4 separate regions of the Homo sapiens genome follow, and all the other regions are reported to be linked to region 3. Evidence: microRNA targets listed by miRTarBase, many of them from high-throughput screens and not tested one by one. Region 3 holds a microRNA gene; each other region holds the end of a gene's coding sequence.
What was found. The annotated mature microRNA hsa-miR-4465 reads CUCAAGUAGUCUGACCAGGGGA and lies in region 3 at 3,591-3,612, shown strand. An mRNA with a match to its seed (bases 2 to 7 or 8) in the 3' UTR can be bound and repressed. Matches are read on the target gene's strand: a 7mer-m8 pairs with bases 2 to 8, a 7mer-A1 pairs with bases 2 to 7 and ends in A, and an 8mer does both.

Region 1 (6,015 bases), not on the chromosome of region 3:
TCGGCTCACTGCAACCTCCACCTCCCGAGTTCAAGCAATTCTCCTGCCTCAGCCTCCCGAGTAGATGGGACTACAGGCGCCCGCCACCACGCCTGACTAATTTTTGTATTTTTAGTAGAGACTGGGTTTCATCATGTTGGCCAGGCTGGTCTCGAACTCCTGACCTCAGGTGATCCACCTGCCTTAGCCTCCCAAAATGCTGGGATTACAGGCGTGAGCCACCATGCCAGGCAGCCTAATTTTTTTTATAGAAATGGGGTCTTGCTGTGTTCACCAGGCTGGTCTTGAACTCCTGGGCCCAAGTGATCCTCCTACATTGGTTTTCCAGAGTGGTGAGATTACAGACGTGACCCACCATGCCTGGCCTGGTTTTTGTTTGTTTGTTTGTTTTTGTCTTTGTTTTTAAGTAGTTAAGCAATCAGGAAAACATTTCATTATCCTTGAAATTTAATAGGGAGGAAAATGTAATTTACATAATGCCTCTCCTGCACTGTGAAACCTGTGCTGCTTTCTTCACTTGATCAGCTCTTCCACTGCAGTGGCTTCTCTGGTTTGCTCTAAGTGCATCACAACAGTTGAAAGTATGACCCTCCCGTATGAGATAGGTTTAAATGATAGCTTCCTCAAATTCTGGTTTGGAGAGCTTTGTTCTCTACGAGGCCACTCCCAAAAGCAGTCCTGGAATGTCTCTTCTGAGCCATTGAATGGGTGCTGCTTAGAGACACTACAACAGCCTGACTTCTAGAGTCAACAGTAGGAATCATAAGCTGAATACCCACTGAGTTTTTGTGTTGGTATTTCATAGCTGAGGGTAGAGCCTGAGGAGAAGTGTTGTTTGAAATAATCCGAATTTCTCTGCTGATATCCATTAGGTTATCAAAACCAGAGATGACTTACAGAGCTTTACACACAGACATGCCTATAAATGGGAGGATGAGAGTGATAGGTGGGCAAGGGGCTGTGAGAGGGACTAATTAGCCTTCATATATCCTAATCCCCCATTTTTGTATCTCATGGTCATCCCTGTAGACCGGACAGGAACATGAGCTTATCGAGAGCATGCCCCTGTTGGAATGGTTTGCTAACAACTATAAAAAATTTGGAGCTACGTTGGAAATTGTCACAGATAAATCACAAGAAGGGTCTCAGTTTGTGAAAGGATTTGGTGGAATTGGAGGTGAGTAGCAAATCAGCAAACCAAACTTAAAACCAGGGTCTCAGGTCAAGGTCCCTCCTGGCTAGCCCTAGCCCTGCTTCCGGTGAGGTGCTTATTATCTGCTGGGATAGGTGATTGACGCAGCAGGTGCAGGTTCCTAATTTGGACCCATGTTTATTATTACCTCTTTGCTTTCTGCAATTCTGCAAGAGAATAGGGCTTCCCTTATTCCCTTACCAGCCACCTACACACATGCCCATCCCATGAACACAGGTAATTTACCTTTTGGTTTGTTTCCCCAGGTATCTTGCGGTACCGAGTAGATTTCCAGGGAATGGAATACCAAGGAGGAGACGATGAATTTTTTGACCTTGATGACTACTAGGTAGTCGACATGGGTCCGGCAAAACGTGCCTCACCCTCCAGCATCCAACCCAAGGAGCATACCCATGGTGGAATCCAAACAGATCCCTGCCTTACAATTGGAACATTTCCAGAACTTAATCCATGAGCATTGGATATTGAAAAGAAAACCGAAACAAAACCAGACCCAGCCCTACACTTTGGTTTGTCATGGTGTCAGCGCAGCAGCCTACAACTAAGTTCCTAAACGCCACTTTGGACTAATTTAAAAAAGAATCCCAGTTTTTACTTTTACTGGATGGTGAAATTGGTTGCTCTTGTATTTTATGAAAAAAAATGATTTTTTTAACCTTCATACATAGAAGCAAAAATACTTTAACTGCTGTAAACCTTCAAAAGTTAATAGAAGTGAGATCATACTGGTTTGTTTCTTATTTTGATTGGAGAAAAATTAAATTGCTGCATTTCGCAGTGACCCATTTACATGGCATTCTCAGCTTAGACTGCGTAAGAAGAAATATATGTGGTGAAATGTTGGAACCATTTCTCTCTTGGTCTCTGTTTAATGTTGAAAGGGTGAGCTAATAGGAGGCACTTTCAACTTCACTCCCTCACGCTACCCCGTCCCCCTCCAGACTGGCAGTTTCAAGGATGCAAATTGCATTGCAAAATCAAACTGACTCATGAAGCATTTGGGCCAGTGCACTGTTTACTTCCATCTGTTTGCAGACACATTTGTGCCCGGCGTTTGGGAGCCCTTTGTATCAATGTTCTGACAAGGGTCCCTATAACCTTAACCTACTCGAAACCGGTTTGGGATGGATATGATGGGGCTTCTGTGCTATTGCTGGGATTGGGAGAAATAAAACATGCAATTTAAGTGGAAGCGAAGAAATTTAAAGAGGATTTTATTTTGCTTGGGTCAATCCTTGTTAAAAGGGAGGTGGATGTGTTTTCCTTGTGTTGGATGGCATGAGATTATGTGAATGTTTTGATTTATTAAAATGAACTGCAAGGTTTTTCACAGGAACGACAGACATGTATGACTGCATGTAATTATAAACTCCTGACCTCCTGGTGGGGTTGGAGCATCTGTTTCAAATGTGGGACTTACAAGCACTTCTCACATGAGAAATTAGGGGCGGGTGGGAAGGGATGGGACACAGCTTCTGGCACCATGGATTTAAGACCATGTTGGATCCAAAAGTTGGCCTGAAACCCTGAAGCTTATGCTTCACAGCTGGGCTGTAAGTCAGACTTGAACCCAGCTGATATGCAAGGTCATGGCGTGCCCAGGGTGGTGACAGTTGAACAAAGTGTATAGTACGTGCCCAGTGGTAGCGATGGAAAAAAGTATACCAAATGGACTTTGAAGGACCAAAGGTTTTAAAAGTCAATTGGTATCACCTCCACACTGACTAGGGTAGTGGGGTGCATTTGGTTTTCAAATTGGGTACTTTTAACACTTTAGTGCCTGACTGCTGTTCTTTACTGACTTGATTCAGTCACTCGTAGCTTTATTGGTCTGAACCAGCTCCTTGTTCCCAGGTTACAGACCTGCCTATCGTTCCAATAATCCTGTTTCACTTGAATGAAGGGAGTATGTCTTAAATGTAAAGTTTCTGGTTCTCACACTGTACTCTGAGGTCCAAATACTGTCTGTCAATGTGTAACCTGATGTCTCAACCCCCTGTGAGAAGAGTCCATTATTTGGTGTTCACCAACGTGGGAGACTTCACCGGAACAGGCTTTTTTGCTTTGGGCTCTGCTATTTGTTTGCAGAACACCCAAGAGCGAGCAAACATGCTCTCTTCACAGCAGTACCTTAGGGTTTTGCCATTGTAAATGGGTCTGATGTGATATGACAAGACCAGAGAAATTGGATGTAAATTTACATTTTTGAATATGCTTGTTGTTTCACATGATACATTTAGGGTATGCAGCTCCTTTTGTAGTTTTTATTTTTACTATTTAAGTTTGGAAATGATGCCAAATTTTTGTATTTCTTTAATCAATGTGTTCTCTTCGGTGATATATATTGCATTATATATTGATGTGTGTATCAATATATATTGATATGTATTACACTTACACATACAAACACATATAAGAGGGGGTGAAAACCGTAGCCTTTGCATTCTCTATAGCCTCTGCAGAGAGATACTAAGCAGCAAAATCTTGGTGTTGTGATGTACAGAAATGGAGAAGAGTATTAAACCATATTTAAGAATATACTTTGTGTGCTTGAGATTTTTTAGGACTGGTCTAGAAAGGCCTGAACTGTGGAGACAGTTCTCCAAGGCATACCTCAGATTAGTCACGGCCAATAGCATTTCAGCCTTGGGTTTGAGTTGTGTTTACTACATTTGTCTATGGAAAGGTATATGCAAAGTTTTTCTGAGGTCATGATCCCAGAGTTATGCTAGAAGAAGAAGGTTCAGGTTGCTGGGGCCAAACTAATTTGTATTCTCCCCCATTCTATATGCATGCCAAAGGGAATCTTGCTTTTTTTTTTTTTTAAGGTATGTTAAGTATATTATCCCATAACCCAGCATCCCATGGAGGTAGATGGTGTACCCAATTTTACAGGTGATGAAACAGAACAAAAGAAGGTTAAGTAGCAGCTCTTTAGTGATAACACCAAAATTTTATCCCAGGCCTTATTCCAAAGTTCTCTCTGTATCTGTCTTTGAGTCCTATAATAGAATGGTCCAGATGGAATAGCAGAAACTAGGCCTGGGCCCTCTCTCTCTCCCACGCTCCTTCATCTTACATACCTTACACTGGGTAGGAGAGTAGTAGCCCACCCAAAAGCAGGTCAGGGGCTGGTCCAGAGGAGCAGGGCTCCTAGGCCAGGTTCAGAGCAGAAGAGGATTTGTTTTCTTTGTTTTCCCCCAAGGTTGAGGTGCTTAAAGAGCCTCTTTGGTAGTTTAGGAAGCCTAGTTGAGGAGCCAAGGTGGTGCATGGTTTGCTTTCTCCAGGTTTGAGAAAACTGTTTTAAGTAAAATTGACCAGTAATGGCACTTGGCGTACTTTTCACCCATTTTCTTACCTGATCTAGGTGATAGCTCTGACGACGAAACTCAATTACCAGCTGGGAAGGGGCGAACATGCCTGTGCTGGTGGAAGTGTAATTTTCCCTCCTAATGCGTGTCTAGGTGCTGTTCTTGAAGACAAAATTGTTGGAAGGCAGCACAGTGGTGCAGGATATATGGGCTGTGGTCCTTGCCTGTCTGGGCCTGCAGCACTTGCCATCTTTTGTTCTCTGGCTCCAAGACGCATGCCATGACACTCCCAGACAGGCACGGTGGATTTAGGGCTGAGAGCCAAGGTGGAATTTAAGTTTCATGCCAGCTTCTCCTTTGTTGCCAGCTTGAGTGAATGCCAGGGGATTCCTGCCTGCCAAGTCCAGCCCTGATGGGACTGGGTCTCAGGGGACCTAGGAACTGAACAGCCAAGTGGTGTGGGAGCATCCGATTAGAGCTAGGGAAGCAGGGCACAGTTACTTGCTTGTTTTGTGGCAGTTTGGGTGCTGCAAGTTGCTGAGGATGTGGCTGAATAGCAGGCACTAGAAATAACAGGTGAAAACAATTCACCACCTAAAGGGTTCTCTGTAAATCAAGTCTAAAACCCTGTCTGGTGAATTCTGTTTCAGATACAGCCATCTCCAGGAGTCCTTCCCTGAAACTGGCAGGCTTACCTGGGGCTTAGCTAAGAGCCCAGAACCAAACAAGGGAGTCAAGAAAAGCTCTGGTTCTGCTGGGCACCATGGCTCACGCCTGTAAACCCAACACTTCAGGAGGCCAAGGCAGGTGGATCACCCGAGGTCAGGAGTTCAAGACCAGCCTGACCAACATGGTGAAACCCCGTCTCTACTGAAATTACAAAAACTAGCCGAACAGGTGGTGGGCGCCTGTAATCCCAGCTACTCAGGAGGCTGAGGCACAAGAATTGCTTGAACCTGGGAGGCAGAGGTTGCAGTGAGACGAGATGGCACCACTGCACTCCAGCCTGGGCGACAGAGAGACTGTCTCGAAAAAAAGAAAAAAAGGCTCTGGCTCTGCAGTTAACTGGGTTTGTGACTTCACAGTATCAGGCAGTCCCTGAATCTGAAGTGCCGTGCCAGCCAGCTTCCCAGGAAGCTATCAGGAGAGTGCAGTAGGAAGCAGGATCTCTGAGGTCTGAGGTAGAAATCCTGGCGCCACCTGAGAGGCTGGCAAATTATTCCATGTCTTTGAGTAGCAGTTTCACCACCTGTAATAAGGATTAAATGGAGTAAGGCACATGAAGGCACTTAGCAAGGACTGGGATGGCAGCTACTCATGGTTCTTCCTCTCCCAACCTTGGTCCTCTGGAAGTGGCCAGGGAAAGTTTGTGCTGGTGACCACAAGGTGGTGGTATAGAGTTAAGGATGCTGACTGGAAGAAATTTGCTTCATCTGAAGTAGGGGGGATTTCTGACAAGCATTAAGAGGTGCCTGGGACAACTTGCTTTGC
Region 2 (6,015 bases), not on the chromosome of region 3:
AGCTGGGATTACTTGACTAGGGCAGCCAGTGCAAGGCCTGCCCCCATGCAAGGGAGATGATTATTATGGTGGCACCCGCCACCATGCCCGGCTAATTTTGTATTTTTAGTGGAGACGGGGTTTCTCCATGTTGGTCAGGCTGGTCTCAAACTCCCGACCTCAGGTGATCCGCCTGCCTTGGCCTCCCAGAGTCCTGGGATTATAGGCGTGAGCCACCGCGCCCGGCCAAGATTATTTTTAAAATTGGGCTATGATTGTGACAATGCACTCCAGCCTGGGTGGTAGAGCGAGACCTTGTCTAAAATAAGTAAGTCAATAAAATAGTCTTTAAAATGGCCAATTCCAGGCTGGGCGCAGTGGCTGCATACCAGTGTGAATGTATTAAAGCACTGCATTGCACACCTGAAAATGGTTAATTTTATGTTATGTGAATTTCACCTCAATAACAAAAAAAGTGACCCGGGACATATCATGTGCACACAGGAGCCCATTTGGAAGGGGTCACGATGGCCAAACAGAGAGGACAACTTGAGCAACAAAATTAAAGTTTATAAAGGATTTATAGTCTGTAGAAAAAATGTCATCAAGGCCGGGTGTGGTGGCTCATGCCTGTAATCCCAGCACTTTGGGAGGCCAAGGCGGGTGGATCATGAGGTCAGGAGATAGAGACCATCCTGGCTAACACGGTGAAACCCCGTGTCTACTAAAAAATACAAAAAATTAGCTGGGCTTGGTGGCGGGCGCCTGTAGTCCCAGCTACTCGGGAGGCTGAGGCAGGAGAATCGCTTGAACCTGGGAGGCAGAGGTTGCAGTGAGCTGAGATCGCGCCACTGCACTCCAGCCTGGGCGACAGATCGAGACTCTGTCTCAAAAAAAAAAAAAAGGAAAAAGAAAAAATGTCCTCGAGTGGATGCTGGTAGAAATAAATGACTGAATAAATGGCTGATGGGACCACGAGACTGCTCCTCTTTACAGTGGAGTCCAGTGACTCACTGTGGCAACAAACACAGGACCCCATCCGCCAGTCTGGCTCCTGTCACCTCCTGGGCTGGCGAGGGCCTCAGTGCCACCATGCTGAAGTCTCTGCCTTCCCTTTCGGGACTTAAGTACCAGGACAGCAGATACAGAAATAGGCAGGGGAAGCTCACTGCTACTGGGGTCTGGTAACCTACAGATTCAGGGCTCAAGTCACACAATTTCTTTTTTGAGACAGGGTCTCACTCTGCCACCCAGTCTGGAGTGCAGTGGCACAATCACGGCTCACCACAGCCTCAAACTTCTGGGCTCCAGCAATCCTCTCACTGTGGCCTCCCAAAGTACTGGGATTACAGGTGTGGGCCACTACACTTAGCCTGCAGACAATTTTTTTTTTTAAATTTTTATATATTTTTTGAGACAGAGTCTGGCTCTGTCACCCAGACTGGAGTGCAGTGGTGCGTGAGCCACCACGCACAGACCCCTGGCCAATGTTTTTTTAAAAATCAGAACAAAATCTGGCCGGGCACAGTGGCTCCCGCCTGTAATCCCAGCACTTTGGGAGGCTGAGGTGGGCAGATCACCTGAGGTCATTTCAAGACTAGCCTGGCCAACATGGCAAAACCCCATCTCTACTAAAAATACAAAAATTAGCAGGGCGTGGTGGCAGGCACCTGTAATCCCAGCTACTCGGGAGGCTGAGGCAGAAGAATCGCTTGAACCCTGAAGGCAGAGGTTGCAGTGAGCCAAGATCATGCCACTGCACTCCAACCTGGGTGACACAGTAAGATTCCATCTCCAAAAATAAATAAATAAATAGGCTTGGTGCAGTGGCTCACAGCTGTTAATCCCAGCACTTTGGGAGGCTGAGGCAGGAGAATCGCTTGAACCCAGGAGGCGGAGGTTGCAGTGAGCCAAGAGCGTGCCACGGCACTCCAGCCTGGGCGATAGAGCAAGACTGTCTTTTAAAAAAGAATAAGTAAAATAAATTTCTGTTGGTTGAGCCATGCAAAATCTGTGGTATTTTGTTATGGCAGCCCTAGCAGACTGATATAATAGCTATTTCCATCAACACACTTATGTATGCAGACAGTATGTCTAGGATTTTTTTTTTTTTTTGAGTCTCACTCTGTTGCCCAAGCTAGAGTGCAGTGGTGCAATGTCGGCTCAGAGATTGGCAAGAGCTGGAAAAAACTGGGCAGCTGTATCAGGGAGTGTGACTTTGTACCATATTCTCTTTTTATACCTGTTCATTTTTATTTTTTCATTTTTTTTCTTTTTATCAGAGACAGGGGCCTCTTTGTTGCCCAGGTTAGTACTGAACTCCTGGTTCAAGTGATGCCCCTTCCTCAGCCTCCCAAAGTGTTGGGATTGTAGGCTGAGCCACCACTCCCAGCCTGTTCATTTTTGTATCCCTAATGTGACAGTTTGAAATGTCTACCAATTCTGATATTCTTCCCTTCAAAACACAGAACCTCATTCTCCTCCCTCTGCACGTGGGCTGGGCCTGGGGGGCTTGCTTTTGATAAACAGGCTGTGGCGGAAGTGATCACGTGAGACTTCTCAGGGTGGCTCATAGAAGCACTGTGGCTTGCTCCTTCCTCTCCCTTGGTTCACCTGCTCTGGGGAAGGCAGAGGCCATGCCGTGAGGATGCTCAAGCAGCTTCGTGTAGGGGCCCCCATGGGAAGGAACTGTGGCTGTCACCGACAGCCACGTGAGGGCACTGGCTTGGAAGTGGCTCCAGCCCCAGTTGAGCCTTCCTCAGACGAAGTGGCCTTGGCTGATGTCTTAACTGCAACCTCATGAGAGACTCTGGGCCACAACCACCCAGATACATCACTCCCAAATCCCCGACTGACACAGACTGTGAGAGAGTGAATGTTCGTTGCTTTAAGCCACTACGTGTGGGTGACTTGTTAAGGCAGCAACGGATGAACACACTGCAGATACTACTTATGAGCCATTTCAAATAGGCAGTTTCTGTCAGCCATTGGAACACTCTCCTAGACTTGCAACATTCTGGAGCTGAAAGGACGCCTGGGTCACCTGTGCCACTCCAGCTACAGTCACAGTAACCAAGCCACCAGCATGATCAACATCCGGGCACGGAGCAGGTTTCAGTGAGGTTTAATGCAACGTGCATTAAAATATCCAAGCTGTTTTCAGAAACATAAGAAGCCTGAAGCTGAGCTGTGGGTTTCCTCTTGTCCATCCTGAGGCTTGGGCTGCTCCAGATGCAGCAGGTGCTGAGGTGGGAGGAGCTAGCACCACCAGGCACCTGGAGGGAGAGCAGACGAGGCAGGGTGAGTAGAAGTGTCCCTTCCAGGCTGGGTGCAGTGGCTCACGCCTCTAATCCCAGCACTTTGGGAGGCCGAGGCGGGCGCATCACCTGAGGTCAGGAGTTTGAGACCAGCTTGATTAACATGGAGAAACCCCATCTCTGCTAAAAATACAGAATTAGCCTGGTGTGGTGGCAGATGCCTGTAATCCCAGCTCCTTGGGAGGCTGAGGCAGGAGAATCGCTTGAACCCGGGAGGTGGAGGTTGCAGTGCGCCAAGATCGCGTCATTGCGCTCCAGCCTGGGCAACAAGAGCCAAACTCTGTCTCAAAAAAAAAAAAAAAAATTAGCTGCGTGTAGTGGTGGGCACCTGTAGTCCCAGCTACTTGGGAGGCTGAGGCACAAGAATCGCTTGAACCTGGAAGGCAGAGGGTGCAGTGAGCTGAGATCGCGCCACCGTATTCCAGTCTGGCAACAGAGCGAGACTCCGTCTCAAAAAAAAAGAAACGTCCCTTCCATATGAAGCTGGCTGCGGAAGTGGCCCAGGACAGCAGCCTGGCAGGAACACCAATGCAGCACAGGCCCCGGGCTCCACGCAGTAGGGAGAAACACAGACCGGAGCAGGGCTCTGAGGCCCAGGTTCAAACAGTGGCATGGCCTCAGGCCTCAGGCCAGCACCTGGAAAATGGGGGTGTAAGAGCACGGCCACGTGGGACTGTCATGTGGGCACTGGGAAGATGCCACAGGCACTGTGGTTAAGGGGGCAGCTGGCATGCTGGAGAAACACGTGGATGCGTCCAGGGCCTCACAGGCGCTTCCAAGAGCTCATGGGGTGTCCAGCCACTGTGGGCCAGCCTCCACCTTCCCCCTCTGTCTGTAACATGGGCCCCACCCAGTTCAGGCTGCAGTGCCCACTGAGACGGAAGCAAGGTTTGCCTCAAAGACTCACTGGGATTGTCCAGAGGGAGGGCGAGGCCCACACCCCAATCACACAACCCAAGGCTGCGGGGCGGACAGTTCTGTGCCCGTGGGCCGGAGATGCCAGAAGGGGCACCCAGGGCCCCACTCTCGAATGCAGGTCTCTCCAGGGGGAGCAGTGAGGGCTGCCGCCCCGGCTCTGGGAGCCTGGAGAACCCACTCTTCGGCCACCATCCGGCCATCATGCAGTCCACCCACCGCAGCCCACTGAAACTTACCAGAGCAGTCTGTGAAGGGTTTGTGTAATTAATTATCCTTCTTAAACTTGCCATTGATGTAAGGTACCCAGTCCAGGATCAGCCGCCAATCGGTGGCCCACACCAGCCCCACGGCGCCCACAGCGCCCCATGTGTAGGCCGTCGGGACCCTGCGAGAGGAGAGGGGATGGTCAGGCCTGCTCTGGACCCTTTCTCCAAGACCCTCTCCTGCCCACCCCGGCCCCCCGTCCTGAGCGGTGATGGCTGAGGTGCGGGCCTGGCACCTGTGCCCGCCCAGTGCTGTGAGCCCTGAGGGCTGGCACCAGCAGCACAGGCCCTGCCCATGCTGCCGGCTCTCAGGAAGCCAGTAACTGCTCAAGGGGCTGCTGGGGTGGGAGTGGAGCTGGGGGGAGGCTGGGCCTGGCGCATGTGTAGGTGTTTGTAAGTTTGCAACCACCATGATGATGGGTCCGGTCTGCTGCAGTCTGCAGAAATTCATCCATCCCTGCCACAGCTGCAGGACTCAGGCAGGTGCCGCCATCACAGTCCCTGTTCCCAGGCGAGGACACCAAACAACAGACAGGGCGAGGCCCTCACCTGAGGCCACACAGCTGGCGAGGATCGAGGCCTCCGGTTCCAAGCTCATGCTCTTGCCCACCACGGCACGTGCTGTGAGAGCTCCCCTGAGTTGCCTGGGCCCAGCAGATTCTAGGAAGGCCCAGCAGATTCTAGGAAGGCCCAGCAGATTCTAGGAAGGCCCAGCAAACCCGCCTGCTGGCGTTTACGCCCTCGCACAGTATGAACTTGGGCACAGGCTTCTTTTTTTTTTTTTTTTTTTTTTTGAGACGGAGTCTTGCTCTGTCACCAAGCTGGAGTGCAGTGGCGTGATCTCGGCTCACTGCAATCTCCACCTCCCGGGTTCAAGCAATTCTCCTGCCTCAGCCTCCCGAGTAGCTGGGACTACAGGCGCCCGTCACTGCGCCTGGCTAATTTTTTGCATTTTTAGTAGAGATGGGGTTTCACCGTGTTAGCCAGGATGGTCTCAATCTCCTGACCTCGTGATCCGCCCGCCTCGGCCTCCCAAAGTGCTGGGATTACAGGCGTGAGCCACCGCGCCCGGCCGGGCACAGGCTTCTAATGAGTAGAACGCAGCATGAGCAATGGGGCATCACTGCCGAGGTCAAGTGACAAAAGACTGGCTTCAGACATGGAGGCTCACAAGGGGAATCCCAGCACTTTGGGAGGTTGAGGCAGGAGGCTCACTTGAGCCTAGGAGTTTGAGACCAGCCTAGACAACAGAGTGAGACCCCATCTCTACACAAAATTAAGAAAAATTAGCCGGGTGTGGTGGCACATGCCAGTAGTCTCAGCTACTAGGAAAGCTGGGGCAGGAGGATCTCTTGAGCCCAGGAAGCAGAGGCTGTGGCTACACCAACTGCCTTCCAGCCTCGGTAAATATGAGACCATATCTCAAAAAAAATTAAAAAAGAAAAAGAGGCTGGGCGTGGTGGCTCACGCCTGTAATCCCAGCACTTTGAGAGGCTGAGGCGGGCAGATCACCTGAGGTCAGGAGTTCAAGACCAGCC
Region 3 (6,015 bases):
GCCATCTCTGATTTTGTCCATGTTCCTTCTATGTGGAATTCCTTCATCTCATACTTATCTGTCAAAGTCCCATGCATACCTCAAACGGTCCTTTTATAAAGGCTTTATTTTTTCTAGGTCACAAAGCCATACATTCCCTATTTTTAAAATGTTTCTTTTTTTTTTTTGTATTTTTTATTGGCGACTTAACTATTCTCAACTTCTCCATATGTCAGGCATAAAATGAGACAGAAATTGAAAAGATAAATATGACAGAGTCATACACACATATGTGTCATCAGTATTAGATGTATTACTTCAGTATAAAACAGTCAGACATCATAGTTACACATAAAAGATTAGCTTATTTTGAAATAATAGTAGTATCAGTGAGGCCATGATACTCTCTTTTAGTCTAGGATTACATTTCTTTAAATCTTTCTCCTGAAAAATTTTAATACTTCTATTTATTTTTAACCTTCTCTCTCTGTCTCTCTCTCTATATATATCTAAATAAAATATATATATGTGTGTATGTGTGTGTCTGTGTATGTGTGTATATGTGTATATATAGGTGTATCTATATAGAGATACAGATATAATATCTAATAATACACACACAACGCTTCAGACATTTTATTATTATTATAGTGTCTAATATTACACACATATATCTCTCTATATAGATATATATTCTCTATATCTCTATAGATATAGAGAATATATATTCTCTATATATCTCTATAGATATAGAGAATATATATTCTCTATATATCTCTATAGATATAGAAAATATATATTCTCTATATATCTCTATAGATATAGAGAATATATATTCTCTACATCTATCTCTATAGATATAGAGAATATATATTCTCTACATCTATCTCTATAGATATAGAGAATATATATTCTCTACATCTATCTCTATAGATATAGAGAATATATATTCTCTACATCTATCTCTATAGATATAGAGAATATATATTCTCTACATCTATCTCTATAGATATAGAGAATATATATTCTCTACATCTATCTCTATAGATATAGAGAATATATATTCTCTACATCTATCTCTATAGATATAGAGATATATATTCTCTATATATATCTCTATATCTATAGAGATATATATTCTCTATATATATCTCTATATCTATAGAGATATATATTCTCTATATATATCTCTATATCTGTAGAGATATATATTCTCTATATATATCTCTATATCTGTAGAGATATATATTCTCTATATATATCTCTATATCTGTAGAGATATATATTCTCTATATCTCTCTATATCTGTAGAGATATATATTCTCTATATATCTCTCTATATCTGTAGAGATATATATTCTCTATATATCTCTCTATATCTGTAGAGATATATGTTCTCTATATATCTCTCTATATCTGTAGAGATATATGTTCTCTATATATCTCTCTATATCTGTAGAGATATATGTTCTCTATATATCTCTCTATATCTGTAGAGATATATGTTCTCTATATATCTCTCTATATCTGTAGAGATATATGTTCTCTACATATCTCTATATCTATAGAGATATATGTTCTCTACATATCTCTATATCTATAGAGATATATGTTCTCTACATAACTCTATATCTATAGAGATATATGTTCTCTACATATCTCTATATCTATAGAGATATATGTTCTCTACATATCTCTATATCTATAGAGATATATGTTCTCTACATATCTCTATATCTATAGAGATATATGTTCTCTACATATCTCTATATCTATAGAGATATATGTTCTCTACATATCTCTATAGATATAGAGATATATGTTCTCTACATATCTCTATAGATATAGAGATATATGTTCTCTACATATCTCTATAGATATAGAGATATATGTTCTCTACATATCTCTATAGATATAGAGATATATGTTCTCTACATATCTCTATAGATATAGAGATATATGTTCTCTACATATCTCTATAGATATAGAGATATATGTTCTCTACATATCTCTATAGATATAGAGATATATGTTCTCTACATATCTCTATAGATATAGAGATATATGTTCTCTACATATCTCTATAGATATAGAGCTATATGTTCTCTACATATCTCTATAGATATAGAGCTATATGTTCTCTACATATCTCTATAGATATAGAGCTATATGTTCTCTACATATCTCTATAGATATAGAGCTATATGTTCTCTACATATCTCTATAGATATAGAGCTATATGTTCTCTACATATCTCTATAGATATAGAGCTATATGTTCTCTACATATCTCTATAGATATAGAGCTATATGTTCTCTACATATCTCTATCGATATAGAGCTATATGTTCTCTACATATCTCTATCGATATAGAGCTATATGTTCTCTACATATCTCTATCGATATAGAGCTATATGTTCTCTACATATCTCTATCGATATAGAGCTATATGTTCTCTACATATCTCTATCGATATAGAGCTATATGTTCTCTACATATCTCTATCGATATAGAGCTATATGTTCTCTACATATCTCTATCGATATAGAGCTATATGTTCTCTACATATCTCTATCGATATAGAGATATATGTTCTCTACATATCTCTATCGATATAGAGATATATGTTCTCTACATATCTCTATCGATATAGAGATATATGTTCTCTACATATCTCTATCGATATAGAGATATATGTTCTCTACATATCTCTATCGATATAGAGATATATGTTCTCTACATATCTCTATCGATATAGAGATATATGTTCTCTACATATCTCTATCGATATAGAGATATATGTTCTCTACATATCTCTATCGATATAGAGATATATGTTCTCTACATATCTCTATCGATATAGAGATATATGTTCTCTACATATCTCTATCGATATAGAGATATATGTTCTCTACATATCTCTATCGATATAGAGATATATGTTCTCTACATATCTCTATCGATATAGAGATATATGTTCTCTACATATCTCTATAGATATAGAGATATATGTTCTCTATATATCTCTATAGATATATGTTATCTATATAAATATATATTCTCTCTATATATAATTACATACACACATATATATGTATGTAATATTAGACAAAATCTCTAATAGCAAGACAAACATGCAACCCTTCCGACATTTTATTGTTATTAGATATAGTGTCTAATATTACACATATGGCACAAGCCTAGAAGAAAGCAATAGTAATAGATCATTTATCTGTGTTAATTAAAGAGGTAAAATCGTTATCTAGCAAAATATGTTGAATTTAACAAACTGCATCCAGAAAAAATTCTCTAGTTTTACCATTTCTAGAAGAGGATGCAATTTTTGTTCTTTTAAGTTTTGTTCTATGTGTGTGGGGTTGGGAAGGGAATGGGGGTGAAGGCGTGGCTGAGAGAATAAAAGCCTTGAGAAAAGAGGGCTTGCCTTGCTCCTTATGCTGGAGAGATGTCCAGGAGGTACCACGGTTGGTAGTGCTGCCTACAAAGGATGTTACAGTTGAATTTGTCAAGTTCGTTTCTTAGACAGCCCTGCTCTGGTCTAGCCCAAGCTCTCATGTGTCCCCTGGCACGCTATTTGAGGTTTACTATGGAACCTCAAGTAGTCTGACCAGGGGACACATGAGAGCTTTTCATTGATTGCATTCCCACAAGCATATTTCCGTCACAAGTGGGGCATGTATCTCTTGTTTGGTTTGTTTTTAGTTTCAATAGCATATAACTTGCTTATTTCGCTTCTATGGATACTACCTGTGCCACTAAATAGGTCCCCTTAAACCTCTTGCAAAAAAGAAGGAAGTATTATTTACTCTACTTTTCTCTTTTAACCCTGAAATGAACATACACATTGTTAAAAATATTTATGGCATTTTATTGCTACTAATTATGAAAAAAAAAAGAAACAGCAGGAAACACAAAAGAGCAAATGTCGGTCTACATTTAAAGCAACCATAATGAGGACTCTCCCAGTGTTTTTTCAACTTCCTTAATCTATGGACCATTTTCAGCTAAAAAATAATTAATGATAAGTACACTTTAATTCTAAGTATCAATTTTTATAATATCAGCTAAAAACATACCAACAAAACTTATATATGTTTTGATATAATTGTATAAAATAAAATTTTTATGTAAAATAAGATATAAACTTATTTTACTTATAGCTCTGAAATCTATTAAATTTCATTTTCAAATAAAATACTAAAGCTTCCTACCAAATCACTAAAATTCAAATTAACAACATTAATTTAATATGCCATAGATTATAATTTTTATAAAAAAATACAATTACCAATGAAATTAAAACTATGAAGCAATACTTTCTCACTTTTGTCATTCTTATTTTGACCCTTATTTAAATTATAGTAGTTATCGTTGCCTTTATTTTTGCCTTTAAAAAACTCAAAATTTTAACTATCAGGGAATTATTTTGAAGATCCAATCAATTCAATCATATTCATAAAAGGCAAAAAAATTTTGGAGTATGAAGTCCTTTATTATATATTTAGTATCATCATTACTTGTTCAAAATTAAATCTATACAACACATCTGCCAGTGAAATAATTATGACACTGACTGCTACAGTACAGGTTCTGTTGAGTTCTTCAGAGTTGAAAGACCATGTGCTATTTGGTGACAATTTCCCCCCTACTATGCCTTATGTAAATGGCTGTAAAAGCTTTATTTGTACAGCTTGCCATGATGTAATTTGTCCTTTACTTGGGGCCAATGCAAATGCAAACTCCAGGACTTCAGTAAAGCAGTGGGACATGGGTATAAATTGGTCATACAAACAATCTTTGGTATGCTCATATATATGGGTGTAAGATTATCAAAATAAATGTAGAAAATTCAAAATTCTCTTAAAACTAAGAAGTCAATCTCCAGAAATCGTAAGAGTGATAATTCTTTCTTTTATATACACTCCTTGGCACTTTTTCATGTTCTAGTTCAATTAAGAGAAAAACAAAAAAGTTGTAAAATGCTAAGTCATTCAGGATTTCTCCAGATTCCAATATTATTTATGGCTCAAGGTAGATCCAAATAAAAATGAGAGTGTTACTGTTTTACACAGGAAATATCAACTTAGGTCATTTCCCAACAGTTACACAATCCAAAGTAAATTGAATGGATCTTAAATATTTAAAAAATATATTCATTTGAGGAAAAAAAATGAAGCTTAAGACTTAGAGGAGATCTGAATTTATTTGCTAAGTAGGTAGTGAACAATTCATTTGTTCATTAAAGTTTTCTGGAGTATTTATCCTATGACATGCACTGGAACAGTTTTACCATTGTGTAGTTACATCTACTTTGATTTCAGTTCTCTGGAAATGTTACTATAGATAATGACCAGATGGAGCCTTAAGTTATTTGTAAGCTCTATATTCTATAATTCTAATTACGCTGCATTGTTGTATTGCCTCTGTTTTATCCCTCTGATTTTCAATAAACTGTAAAGTCTTTGAATGTTATATGTATATTTATTTATATATATGCATACAATCACAACCAAAAGAAGTAAAAAACCACAAACCTCCATGAATTTTATTTTATTTTACTTAATTTTAATTCATTTTATTTTATTTTTGTAGAGATGAGGCCTCACTATATTGCCCAAGCTGGTCTCAAACTCCTGGCCTCAAGAGATCCTCCCACTTCAGCCTCCCAAAGTGCTAGGATTACAGGTGTGAGCCACCATTCCTGATCAAATTTTAGAGTAAATGATAGAATAATATTCACTCTATGAATACTCAATAAATGTTGTATTTAGTAAAGATGTATTAATGATAGAACATGAACTTTCCAATAAAAATTAATGCAGAGAAGAATGCTCATTTTTATTTTACTTATAATAAATTTAATACCGTTCCAACTTAGATTTCTTTCTAGCTAAAAGGATATCATAGTAATCCATCATAGTAGTCTTACAGATTAAAGAAAAGATTACTTGGGTAAAAATAAAAGCACCAAGATTTTTCTAAGGGATTTTTATGTACATTTTGCCTTATGTCATAATG
Region 4 (4,000 bases), not on the chromosome of region 3:
ACTTGTGTAATATTGAAGTTATACGGTGTACTGAAAGGATATGATTTCCATGAATTTATCTATTCCAGTCTATGCCTACTGAATATTTGACTTTATAAACTCTGGATAAACTAATTTTTAGGACTTCCATTTTTAAGATAAATCTCTTTTTAGAAGATATTTATTCCCAAACCAACTCTAAATGTAATTGAACAAACATATGATCTCTCAAAATGTTCAGAATACAAAAACAAAAATCAAAAATGTATAACAGGCAAACAAGAAAACTGGCACTAGCAGTTTTACTGCCATATAGCCCTCAATTATATCTGATTTACACTATTATCTATGTTGCATTTTACTTCAGTCTAAAACTTTAAATTATGAATTCTCAAAAGAGCTAGTCTCCTCTGAGAGATAGCTTATAAACTGAAATAACAATTTATATTATAAACTGAAATGTTATGACCTACACCCACATATACATATATAAAAATAGTCCCACTGAACGTTTGACATGTTTAGATTATGCAGCTCAAATAATCTGTTATAAAATATTTTAAAGCTTAGTTTCATGTAATTAAGACAAAACTCCATTTTTACCACTTCTCCCCACATAAAGCGTGTGTCCTTTACTATGACTCGAGCAGGCTTCCCAGAATGAGGTGTCCAAAGGTGCTGCTTTAGAAAAGATAAGTGAAGGGCTCAGTCAGTATTTCACAAATTCTAGTAACACTCACACAGAGCAGAGTAATGAGGACACAGAAAGCTGTCTCAAGAAAAGCTAATAATTCTATTAGTTAAGCTTTGCTTTTTAAAAACCAGTAGCATTTCTTCCAACACAAAACCTTCAAAGTGAGAATCTTGCATTTTAAGAAAAGGCTGTAGTGCAAGGAATTTCTTTAAAATCAAAACTTAGAAGGTCAAAGACACGGAAGAGAACAAATGGTTCTAATTAAGATGTAATTAATGAAGATCAGCTATTTTTGTGAACTCTGGCATTTGAGATATAAAGTGAAAACAACACGCATAAAGGTCATAACAGTTAAACTGTATAGATTCAAATCTTACTGAATTTTTCAAAAAACTACTTTTTTGAGCGCAATGTATATAAACAAAAACTCCAAATGAAGCACACAAAAAATAAACTTGAAAAAAATGCTATGAAAAACTTTTCCATAGTTTAGTATAACAAAAATAAATCTCTTGCAGCAATAAAACCATAATTTTAAAAGGGAATGTAAGTTAATCATGGATTTAAAATAACCTAAATTAGAACTACATATAAACAGGGAGTTTTCTCATACATTCAGAACCCAAGCAACAGCAACTATCCTTAAAGCTCAAAACTGATTACAGCTAACATCAGGTCCGACGTGACTTACGTAAAGCTGAACCCAGAGTTAGTTCAAGTTAAGATTTTACGAATTTTACAAAACATGAACTTTGATCTTGGCCTCTGTCTTTAAAATGGAAGACCAAGAATACTCAAATGTTTGCCCAGATGTCACCCTGACTAGGGTCATGAAGTCATATCTAAGCAATTAAAGAGAACCACCACTATAGTGTAAAGGCTTTGATGTGGATACCTGGCCTGATGGCTCTTTCTTGGTCTTTTCTAGCAAAAGACATCAATGAGGAAAATAATGAAGACGTTATTTTCTTTAAAGCAAAATAGCACACATACAAAGCCACTAAACTAATGTAGAAAAAAATTAAATGGCTAACTTATTCCTAACTTTCAAAAATAAAATAATGTATTTTTTAAATGTAGAAAAAGACTTTTACCCATATTACCATGGGAAACAAGATACCAAATTTCATGTTTGGAAACTGTAAGTAAATGACAGGACTAGTTAATGAAAATATAAGTCTCATATATAAAATAAGATTATTATTGATTTTTGAAATCAATGCCAATGGTTTTTTCAAAAGCTACTTATGTACCTGGTTTCTTAAACCCAAATGCCTCCAATTCTGGAGTTTGAAGATCAGGTTTAATCTCATAGTATGTCTAATAACTGCCCAAAAAACCCCCAAAAACCAAAGTCTTCACATTTCCATGACTTCACACTTCCATTTTATGTTCAATGGTGGCAGCAGCAAAAAAACAAACAAACAAACAAAAAAACAAAAAACACCAAACAAAGTGAAACTAGAAAATTTATACATCAGCAGCCATATAGAAGGCATTGCAATATTGCACCAATATTCTAAGATCTGGCAAGTTTTGCCAGTATAGATCTAGTCTGTATCAGATATAGACTACTCATGCGCAAATGGCATCAATTTCAATGATCCACTCCCAGGTTATTCTTGCTTAACTTTGTCAACTATGTTTTTTCCTCTGCATTTAAAGAGTTGAAAGGTGCAGCTAATCCTAAAACACTTATTATAAATGCTTTTAAACAGCTATTCTTGATCCATTCTGAACTTTGTGGTTACTATCCTTCATGCTAATAGCTTTCAGTAAATAAAACAAAAACTGAGGGCTTACATCCCTAGTGTCGCTGGGTATTTTGTACAAAATAAACAAGTAGATAAAACCAGTAACATTATAATTCTATTTCTTACCTCTAAGTCAAAACTGAGGTCAAATTTTCTAAGAGTTTCTACCTTCCATTCAATAACAAATGCAGCAGCCTTACTGAATGTAAAAAATGGGAGTTGCACTTACTTTTAAGGGGCCTTGATTTAGGAGTCTGGTATTACCTAAATGCTCTTTAAAAGTGCTTGCATGCTGCAGGGCCAGAACTTGTCATATACCACTCCGATTCTCACTAAAAACAGGGTAACGTTAAACAGACTGCAAAGAAAAACATTTTCAAAAAGAAAAGACATACATCGACAAAGAACACTAACATTTACTTTTGAAAATAAAATATAAAGTGTTAGTTTTCATAACCATACATGTTTCAGAAATATAAGGAGTTCAAATATTACTGAATCAGTATGGACTGAAGATAGGCTACTTTGATAGCAAATGAGGACTCCAGTTATTTCAACTTTCTAAAAATGTTAATATGTGAAAAGACGTTACATCTAAAATTCAACAAGTATGGCGAACTGTGTGTGCAAGTAAGTGCACTAGCTTAAAAATATAGAATCCTAACCACGCATAAAAGGGATGTGCCTTGTGTATTTATAGGTTGTATGCGAGTATGAATATGCTTTCACTAACACAATGCGGATAAGAGAAGGCAGCTTAGAAATAGTGTTTTGAATATAAAAAGTTAATTTTGTAGAAAATTTATATTTTTGCATTTTCAGCAAAAAGCCATGCAAAAAGGTCAAGAGTTTTAAACTTTTAAATAATAAAACTAAAAAGTATAACAGACTGAAATACACTGAAATAAATCTTCAAAAAGGTTTCAGATAGAGACAGAGACTGAAATCACATCCAGTGACACTTATCGGGTCTTCTCTTAGAAGACACATGACTCCTACGCTAACATCTGAAAGAAATGTTTAAAGCAGAAAATCAATATCCCAGATAAGTGGAGCATTCTATTCAACTGCTTCTGGAAGTAGTTTCAAGAGCTAGCACTTAGAATTAACTTATTGCATGAGTTTGAGGCCACTGAAAAGAAAAAAAGGATGCTAGCACAGAATGAAAAATTCTTACAATGTTAGACCAATGGCTTTGATAGTAAAACTGGTGAGGTTTTTCTTTATATGTTTTAATTAATTACTCTGTGCAAACAAATACTTTGTTTGCCTCTTTTTTTAGGGAGGAGGATGTCATTAGTTGCAACGCCTGACCTCATCCAGTACATAGTCCGGAAAATGCAGGTTGCATACTTGTAAACCATCCAGCTTGCAGGGCATCCGAGGGTACTCATCTTCCTTCCACTTGTTTTCATCCGGATCAAAAGTGAGGATGGAATCGCTGTAATGACCATTATAACAAAGGCCTCCAAGAACCATTATTTGTTTGTCCAGCACAGTCACACCATGGCCACTTCTACCAATCGGCATGGATGCCAAGATGGTCCACTGATCAGTCTCTGGGTTGTATACT

Region 1: miRTarBase lists ETF1 as a target of hsa-miR-4465. Seed matches in the 3' UTR shown: 7mer-A1 at 2,776-2,782 and 7mer-A1 at 3,105-3,111.
Region 2: miRTarBase lists UQCR11 as a target of hsa-miR-4465. Seed matches in the 3' UTR shown: 7mer-A1 at 2,306-2,312.
Region 4: the mRNA of KLHL15 is a reported target of hsa-miR-4465. Seed matches in the 3' UTR shown: 7mer-A1 at 1,387-1,393.

Annotation. Positions count from the first base shown.
Region 1 is chr5:138,503,831-138,509,845 of GRCh38, reverse strand. It overlaps ETF1 (eukaryotic translation termination factor 1), which reads left to right. Exons shown (of 11, transcript NM_004730.4): 10 at 1,030-1,177; 11 at 1,459-3,751. The coding sequence ends at 1,541. Among named protein-coding and RNA genes, the nearest start is that of ETF1, 36 kb to the left of the region's middle.
Region 2 is chr19:1,594,962-1,600,976 of GRCh38, forward strand. It overlaps UQCR11 (ubiquinol-cytochrome c reductase, complex III subunit XI), which reads right to left. Exons shown (of 3, transcript NM_006830.4): 2 at 4,451-4,599; 3 at 2,208-3,254. The coding sequence ends at 4,479. Among named protein-coding and RNA genes, the nearest start is that of MBD3, 5.1 kb to the left of the region's middle.
Region 3 is chr6:140,680,265-140,686,279 of GRCh38, forward strand. It overlaps MIR4465 (microRNA 4465), which reads left to right and starts at 3,550; the gene lies at 3,550-3,619. The region is part of intron 4 of LOC105378027 (a long non-coding RNA gene); the gene reads left to right.
Region 4 is chrX:23,984,198-23,988,197 of GRCh38, forward strand. It overlaps KLHL15 (kelch like family member 15), which reads right to left. Exons shown (of 4, transcript NM_030624.3): 4 at 1-4,000. The coding sequence ends at 3,724. Among named protein-coding and RNA genes, the nearest start is that of KLHL15, 41 kb to the right of the region's middle.